Regions from separate parts of the Homo sapiens genome. Here regions 1 and 2 are each linked to region 3. The links come from fine-mapping of genetic effects on gene expression. A gene starts in region 3. Each other region holds a variant in brackets. All regions are shown on one strand. Distances are from middle to middle.

Region 1 (2,768 bases), 83 kb after region 3:
CATTCCCTCATTGATGCCTCGTTAAGATGGATTTTAGTAGATCACAATCTAATATACTACTATATTGAAGACACTTTTTTAAAAAAGCAAAAATAAATCAATAAAATGTTAAAAGACCACTGATGAAATCATGGAGTGGATTAATTAGGGTGTAATATTCAGATCATATTCTTGAGTTGGGCATTTTTTAAAATGTTGTTTTTCCTGTATTCATGTTTCTAGGGCGTTGGCTCTGACTTTAATCTGTCAGGATTCAAACCCTAACAGATCCTCATTCGAACATTTACCATGTGACTCAGGACAAGTTATTAACCTAAATTCCAATTTCCTCACCTATAAAATGGGAATAATGAGAACACTGATCCCAGAGAGCCACTATGGTGATTCCATGAGCGATGTGGGTGAAGTGCTGGGTATGGTGTTTGGCATAGAGCGAGTGCTAAATAAATAGTTTTAAACAACTGCTAGTGAAGGAGAGAAAAAGAGAACCTGAGTCATTAAGGTGATGTGTGAGTAGGATGCAAGCCAGGACAGAAGGTTACAGGGCCATATGTGGGTACAAATGGCCATGCTGAAGTAGGGACTCTGATATATTCCTCATTCTTACTCGGGGCAGTGATGAAAAAGGGAGAGCCTTGTTCAAAAAGCTGGACAACAGTGTCATTACAGGGGAAAGCATTTACCTTTTTTCCATGTACATCCTTTGTTCAACCACATGCTTCAAGGTTGCACATTCAAAACATACCTTCAAAGATTACAGCTTTTAGAGTTTCAAGACAGCAACAGATGAGCATTCAACCATGTGGGGGTTCTTCATAGGCCCTGTTTTCCTTGTTCTACTGTAATCCATAAATGGTTGGAAATGCAGACCACTGAAGAGAATTAATTAGGACTTTTCAGATTTAATGGGAACAATTCAAAGAGTCTAAGTTTCTTTTCCATCCAGCGTGAGTTTCCTATTTAGTGAAGTAAAGCTCAACTTTTATCAATAGTTTCATTCTCTTGTGGTATGTAAAACCTACACACACTCAGAGGCACCCAGAGGAAACTACACTCTGAGTTATTAGTAAATTCTCTCCAAGTGAAGCTGCCAAACACAGAAGCTTAAAACTAGATACAGCTTCTCAGGAAGCAGATCAAGCCCAGACTCTGCCACTGAGATTGAATTAACAGGAGCTCACAGGGCTCTCTTGGATAAGCCACATGGACCCAGGGTTGTTAATTTGGGAGGTTTATTAAATAGCGGATTAGGATTGAAAGCGAATGCATCAAAATGTAAGAAGCCCTAGTTTGTTGAAATGAGAAAATTGATACTGAATGAGGTTATCTCTTGAATCTGGGCAGTCTTGTTTTGGCTACCCCACTGCTCAACTCCTAATTAGTAGGGCAGAAAAAACAAGTCCACGTAGGCTAAATGGCCAAGAATAGATGAAAATCAGCTAATAATATAGTAATTAGGAACAAAGCCAAAGCAGGACCTGCAGATGCCCAAAGTTGAAGAGATGCAAAGAAAAGTGTTGCTATC[C/CA]AAAAAAAAAAAAAAAAAAAAAAAGTACTTGTCAGAACAAGTTTTTCAACAGCATATACTTTTAGACTAAGATTGAGGATGAAGGTGACAGGAAAATGATTAGCCCCATAGTTAGGATTACTTATATTTAGAAAAATATTTGCAAAGCTTTCCTTCTCCTTTCATATCATAGCGAACACTGAAATTGTGTTGTTTTCCAACATAGCTGCTAATATTTGCAAAGTAATAATTTTGCAAAGGAAACAGCTTGAAATAAAGCATGCCTGATGCTTAGGAAGAAAGCAAAGAATGCTATCTTTGAGTAGTTACTATAGGTAGCTTTTGATCAGAACGAAGTGGCACAGAAACATCCGATTCCAGTCTCACTGGTGCTGTTTACTCCATGTGACCATTATCAGGTCTCACTTCTGCACTGGCTTTAGGATACTTCTACATCATATGAAAGTGCTGTACAATTTCCAAGTTCCTTCTAAGTCAAACATTCTGTTATTCTTCCCTCCAAAAGATCCTTCAAGACAATGGAAGACTAAATAGCAACTAGAACTTGCTTTGAAGTAAGGCTGACATTATCTGCAAACAGATTAAATCACTATGCTTATATTTTATACTGTTATGTATTTTCCCATTGCAGCTTCACAGTCTTCCCCAGACCTTATCTGTGTATATAGGCACACATGCATAACTGCCTTAACAGTAAAAACATGGTCAAAAATGTAAAAGTTCAGGATGCAAGTTTGATGACACACTTTATTTCTCCAAATTGAAATAAAACTAGATCAATCCCCTGGAAGAAGTTTAGAAAAGTGTTAGCCATCCTCTTCCCCTTTGATTTCCATGTCCAAAGATGGAGAAGCTGCCTTTCTAATCCTTCTGTTTCAGTTTCTTTAGCCAATGGGATTTTATTACCAAAAAATGTCACTGAAGAATCTGGCTGATAATGTCCAGCACTGCAGTTTTTCACTAGACCAATAATATAGTTTGGCTGTGTCCTCACCCAAATCTCATCTTGAACTGTAACTCCCATAATCCCTACATGTCCTGGGAGGGACCTGGTGGGAGGTCATTGAATCATGGGGGCAGGTTTTTCTCATGCTATTGTCATGATAGTGAATAAGTCTCATGAGATCTGATGGTTTTATAAAGGGGAGTTCCCCTACACAAGCTCTCTTGCCTGCCACCACATAGGAAGTGACTTTGCTCCTCATTTGTCTTCAGCTATGATTGTGAGGCCTCCCCAGCCATG
Region 2 (2,768 bases), 45 kb after region 3:
CATCTGATCTTTGACAAAGCTGACAAAAACAAGCAATGGGGAAAAGACTTCCTATTCAATAAATGGTGGTGGGATAACTGGCTAGCCATATGCAGAAGACTGAAGCCAGTCTCCTTCCTTATACTATATACAAAAATCAACTCAATGTGGCTTAAAGACTACCTAAAACTATAAAAACCTGGAAGACAACCTAGGCAATACCATCCTGCACATAGGAACAGGCAAAGATTCTGTGACAAAGACACTAAAATCAATAAAAACATTGGCAAATGGCATCTCATTAAACTTAAGAGCTTCTGTACAGCAAAAGAAACTATCAATAGAATAAACAGACAACCTACGGAATGGTAGAAAATATTTGCATAGTATGCATTTGACAAAGGTCTAATATCCATCATCTATAAGGAACTTAAATTTACAAGAGAGAAACAACCCCATTAAAACGTGGGCAAAGGACATGAATAAACAATTCTCAAAAGAAGACAGAGATGTGGCCAAGAAGCATTTGAAAAAAAGCTCAACATCACTGATCATTAGTGAAATGAAAATCAAAACCACAATGAGATACCATCTCATACCAGTCAGAATGACTATTTATTAAAAAGACAAAAAATAACAGATGCTGATGAGGTTGTGGAGTAAAAGGAACACATACATTGTTGGTGAGAATGTAAAGTAGTTCAACCACTGTGGAAAGCAGTATGGCAATTTCTTAGAGAGCTAAAAGCAGAACTACCAGTTGACCCAGCAACCCTCTTATAGAGTAGTTTAAATCCCTTTTGTTCTATTTCTATCACCTAGATAAACCTGTGCACACATGAACTTGTCTTAACAACAACACATTTCCCTGAGATAAATTGTTTTGCCCCCCTCAGTGTATGATGAGGGTGATGGTAGTTTCCTATTTTAAAAAAATAGCAATAGTTGCTTTGTTGTATTAACATACCCAATAGAAATATATTGGTCAGCTTTTGGAAAAATAGATCAAGTCTAGTTTCCAACATTGGAAACAAATTTGATCACAAGAAATTTCCAATCAGACATTTTCATATTGATGTCAGTGAACACACATAGGAATGATCCACAAAATTACTACTCATTGTTTTCTTTCAATGATGTAGCTTCAAATCCCTATCTGCTAGACTAGTCAGTGGAAAGAAAACAAGTTTGAGAAACCTCATCAGCCGAGGTGTTCCATCTACATCCCTCCTTACCCCTGTTTAGGAACCATTGCCTAGCTTGCCTTCTCCACCAGAGCTATAATTCTTTAAACCCCATTTTTCATTTACTCAACAGATTGAAACATTTCCTAAAGTTGAATAT[T/G]GACCCAGAACTTGGAATGTCTATACCACATTGGTTTACACTAAGTTCTGTTTTTATTAAGATTCTTTGGGTCACTTTCTTAATGGAATTTGCTTCATAATTACCTAAAAGGGAAGATGCTTCTGTGTATGTTCATTTGTTTCAGGGTAATATTGTCATCCATAGCTGCTCTCCAATGCACAAAACTGAGTACTCATGGTATATAGGGAGGCATATAGGGACATTCATCTCTGTTCCTACATCTTTGTAAAGACTTTGGCACAGAGACAATACTTAGTAAATATGTTTTAATTGAACTGAATAATTGTTTATTATTTCTGCCTTATGATATCAGAACTACAATAAGCTCTGAATATACATCCAAAAAAAGAGAATATATTTCAGCTAAAACTGACTTGACGAAATCAGAGAACACAGGAAGTTCTGGATATTTGCAGATGAAGTTTAATAAATAGGAATAAAAGGCTCAATAAAAAAGACACACGCACACACACACACACACACACACACACACACACACACACACAGCAAATGGAAGCAGCCAGACAAAAGCAATAAAGAACAAACAACTAAAACTATTTGTGTATTTTTAGGGAAAGAAAAAGAAATTGAAATCAGAATTAAATGACAACATTTACTGGTCAGCTTATGGAAATATATGTTGCTTGATGGAAATCAACCTTTCCTCTGTGTTTCTAAATATCCATTACAGAATTACCCTAACTCAAGAGACTGTCATTTAGTGATAACTAGTAGAAGTTCCTGATAATGGAGATGAAAGAAATTTGATTTGGGGATAAAAAAGAAGAGATATAAGAACAAGAGAGTTGGATTTCTTTAAAAAATGTGGAGTATCCCACACTAAAATGGTATCAAAGAAAAGTTTTTTTCTGCAAATGTGATAGCCAAGCATCAATTGGGAGGGTTGCTGTTTAAAAGGCAGCCTGTCTGGTTAAGGGAGATGAGCCAGAAGGAGATCACTGAAGCTTTCTGTCTGTCCTCTCCTTACCTGAGTAAGGAAGGAGGAAAATCATTGTGTGTTATTTTTAGTGCAGTGAGAAAAAGAAAATCTGGCTTACATCATGTTGAAAACAAAAGTAACACCATATGTTGTGCCCACCGAGAGCCATTATGATAATGCATTAGTCGGGAAGTGCATAATTGCTCAGCTCAGAAATGGCACCGAGTCACAGCACTGACACCAGCAAATTTTTTGCAATTAGTGTTTGGTTCTTTTTTCTCTGCCAGGTTAAAAATAATAATAATGATGATAACAGAGCCTCTCTTCAACCACTGAAATGCTGATTTTCTTGTAATGTCTTGTTTGCCGGCAAACTCTTATTTAGGAAGACAATCCACTGTCTTTGGAATAAAAGATTTTTAAATAAATACTCACAACCCTCATTTATTTTCATTGAACAGAGGTTTTATTCTTTCTGCTTCAT
Region 3 (2,768 bases):
GCCAACATGGTGAAACCCTGTCTCTACTAAAAGTACAAAAATTAGCCAGGCGTGGTGGCGGGTGCCTGTAATCCCAGTTATTCGGGAGGCTAAGACAGGAGAATCACTTGAGTCCAGGAAGCGGAGGTTGCAGTGAGTGGAGATCGCACCATTGCACTCCAGGCTGGGCGACAGAGCGATACTCTGTCTCAAAAAAAAAAAGAGAGTTGGGAAGTGTTTTGAATGCTTAGAGGGCAGCTTGGGAACTCAATTAGAAGAAGGGACGGTTTAAGCAGACATATTTCTAAGAGACTTATATGAGTTAACTCATTTGATCCTCAGCACTCCTCCATGAGTTGGATGCTATTATTAACAACCCAATATTAGATAAAGGATGACCTTCTTAAAGACCTCTTCCCAGGAAAAAGACTGTGTGTGGGTACTCTGAAGCTTTGGCTCTTCTGGTGGGGACACCACTGGGTTTCCAAAGGCTCATCCAGCCAAGCGAAGTATCTATGACCTCGTCGTGTTCAGCGCGCTTAGGGAAGGATTCTATGGACTGCACTTTTACCCTGGTGTCCTGCATTCTTGCTCCAAGACTTCTCTTACCACTCTCATTCCCCTAAATGCAGCTTCTGACACCTTCTAGCTACGAGTTCTTGGGCTCCTCCTTCGTGACTTCCTTTTAAGATAATTTCTGAGTTACAACAAATCAGCATTTGAAGAAATGCAGCAGATAAGTTGAAAATTCAAGTGCTGAGGAATGTAAAGGCCCAAAACAATCCCGTAGAAAGCACAGAGGCAGATGACAGTCTTCCGTTAAAGATTTCACTGCTGTAGATTTCTGAGAGTGCTGTGTAGCTGTCCTCTTTATCCTGGTGTTTGCCACTTCGAACAGTCACTTTCCCACTTGGAACTTACTTGTGGCTTTGCTGACAAAACAGGAAGTGATTTGAATACAGTTTGTTTTTATGACCTTTCAACCTCAGGAATTTGAAAAGTTTTAGCAGTGGATTTACAGCCTTGCTTAATACTTCTATTTCTTACAAAACAACCGTATAGGGGTTAAAGTATCAGTGCAAAGTCCCGTTCAAATATTGACTCAGTAATGAGCTCTACAAGCCAGCCTTTGTGGCATGTTAAATTCAAAACAAGCTTAGCATTTTTTTTTTTTTTTTTGGATAGAAACTGGTGGGGGTGGGGAAAGAAAGAGGGAACTGGGAAGAGAAGGAGGGGAACTTAAACCTTGCTTCCTGCTCTGTCTTTCTCAGAAAACCAAATATGGCATCTTCCATGAGGAGCTTGTTTTCTGACCACGGGAAATATGTTGAATCTTTCCGGAGGTTTCTCAACCATTCCACGGAACACCAGTGCATGCAGGAATTCATGGACAAGAAGCTGCCAGGCATAATAGGAAGGTAACAAAAGGGACGTTGTTGTCAAAGGGACAAGCCTCAGACTGGCTGTGCGTCAGTGATAGATGGGTCTCGCTCAGCCTCGCAGGCTGGGCACAGGGATAAGGGCGAATTACTGATAGCAGCTCCCCGTCGTCCCCTCCTCGCTGCCCTGCCCTGCCTTTCTCCTGCAGTGCTTTGGTTCCACGTTTGCTTTGAACACTCAAAGGCTCCCATTTGTGTTGTATTTCCAGCTGCATAGAGATAAGCGTTAACCATTTGAAGGCACAAATCCATGTTCATTTGGGAAAAGATAAGATGCTAATCTTCGAACTCAGATTTTTCAGCCCTCCTCCAAATTTTACATCCCAAAAAAGTCCCAAAGGGAGTCTGGTATGCTTTTCATTAGAATCAAATATAAATAATTGCCAAAGTACGATTTGCCCTGAGGATTGAGTGCCTCAGTTCTCATAATATCCATTTAAATTAATTTTCCTTATCCATTGTTATAGTTATCACTCTCTTCCTCAAAATTGTCTTTTTCTTTCAGCTTAATATTAGCAATGTGTTCCTTAAAAAAAGAACCATTTTCCCATTATCAGTGAAACTCACTGGTTCCTATCCTTCTTGCAGAGTTCTTTTTTTTGGGTGATTAATGTGTTCAATTTGTGCCAGAGCTGATAAGCATTATGAGAGTAACAGATTCCACATGCTAAAGATAATCAAATCACCTATCTGGGGGTGATTTGCTGTAACTCATTCTACTTCAGGAAATAATAATGGAAAACTGGGAAGAAATGACTATGGATCCAATTTGCAAACAGCAAAGGAAAGTGGTATTTTATCTTTTGCTGAATTTCTCTATTGCAGGCCTGAAATTCTTTCACCAGGGCAGTACCTATGTCTGACCAGAGCAGGCATTATTAGATGTACATAAAATTTTATTTCCTTTTCTATTTAACATGATTCAGATTTTAAATGTTAGCTTTCAAAAAATAGGATATTATATATTAAAAATTAATATGTAATAGGATAAGGATGCAAACATCAAAGCAAATAGCAAATATAGAGAACTTCTTACCTAGGAACTAATTATAGTTAACCTCTTTGGGTTTCTTTGCTCATTTCTAAAGTTAAAGGTAATGAGTTAATTTCTCAATTCTTTTTCAGTACTAAAAGTATTTGCTCATGTCTGTAGCTTACCAGATCCTTGGTTTTCTTCAGCCATACACAGTTTGGTTTGAAGAGGTACCGTGGATGGAGATAACATAATCGATGATGAATGACCCCTTCCTTATCTTCAAAGTTTAAATCTAACTGGAAATATTATAAAATCTGTGAAAGACTGAAGAATTTTTAAGGGCACACTGTTTGTCTTATAACAGTAGTATATAG

Direction of the effects. Positions count from the first base shown, and alleles are read on the strand shown. Sizes are in standard deviations (SD) of each study's normalised expression. Not every link is listed here.
In carriers of allele CA in region 1, the expression in skeletal muscle of the gene that starts at base 1,242 in region 3 tends to be higher than with C alone (small effect, 0.24 SD a copy in FUSION).

What was found. PIP is the estimated chance that this variant, and not a neighbour inherited with it, causes the effect.
Region 1: its variant is the best candidate, but not a certain one, in a credible set for the expression of HNMT in skeletal muscle (FUSION, PIP 0.62).
Region 2: its variant is the best candidate, but not a certain one, in a credible set for the expression of HNMT in lung (TOPMed, PIP 0.53).

The regions. Positions count from the first base shown.
Region 1 is chr2:138,045,939-138,048,706 of GRCh38, forward strand. It overlaps LOC105373636 (a long non-coding RNA gene), which reads right to left. Exons shown (of 3, transcript XR_923367.2): 3 at 1-872. Among named protein-coding and RNA genes, the nearest start is that of LINC01832, 55 kb to the right of the region's middle. The variant C/CA (reference allele first, on the strand shown) is at 1,526.
Region 2 is chr2:138,008,634-138,011,401 of GRCh38, forward strand. All of the region lies in intron 5 of HNMT (histamine N-methyltransferase), which reads left to right. All of the region lies in intron 2 of LOC107985948 (a long non-coding RNA gene), which reads right to left. Among named protein-coding and RNA genes, the nearest start is that of HNMT, 46 kb to the left of the region's middle. The variant T/G (reference allele first, on the strand shown) is at 1,324.
Region 3 is chr2:137,963,232-137,965,999 of GRCh38, forward strand. HNMT (histamine N-methyltransferase) reads left to right here and starts at 1,242. Exons shown (of 6, transcript NM_006895.3): 1 at 1,242-1,397. The coding sequence starts at 1,261.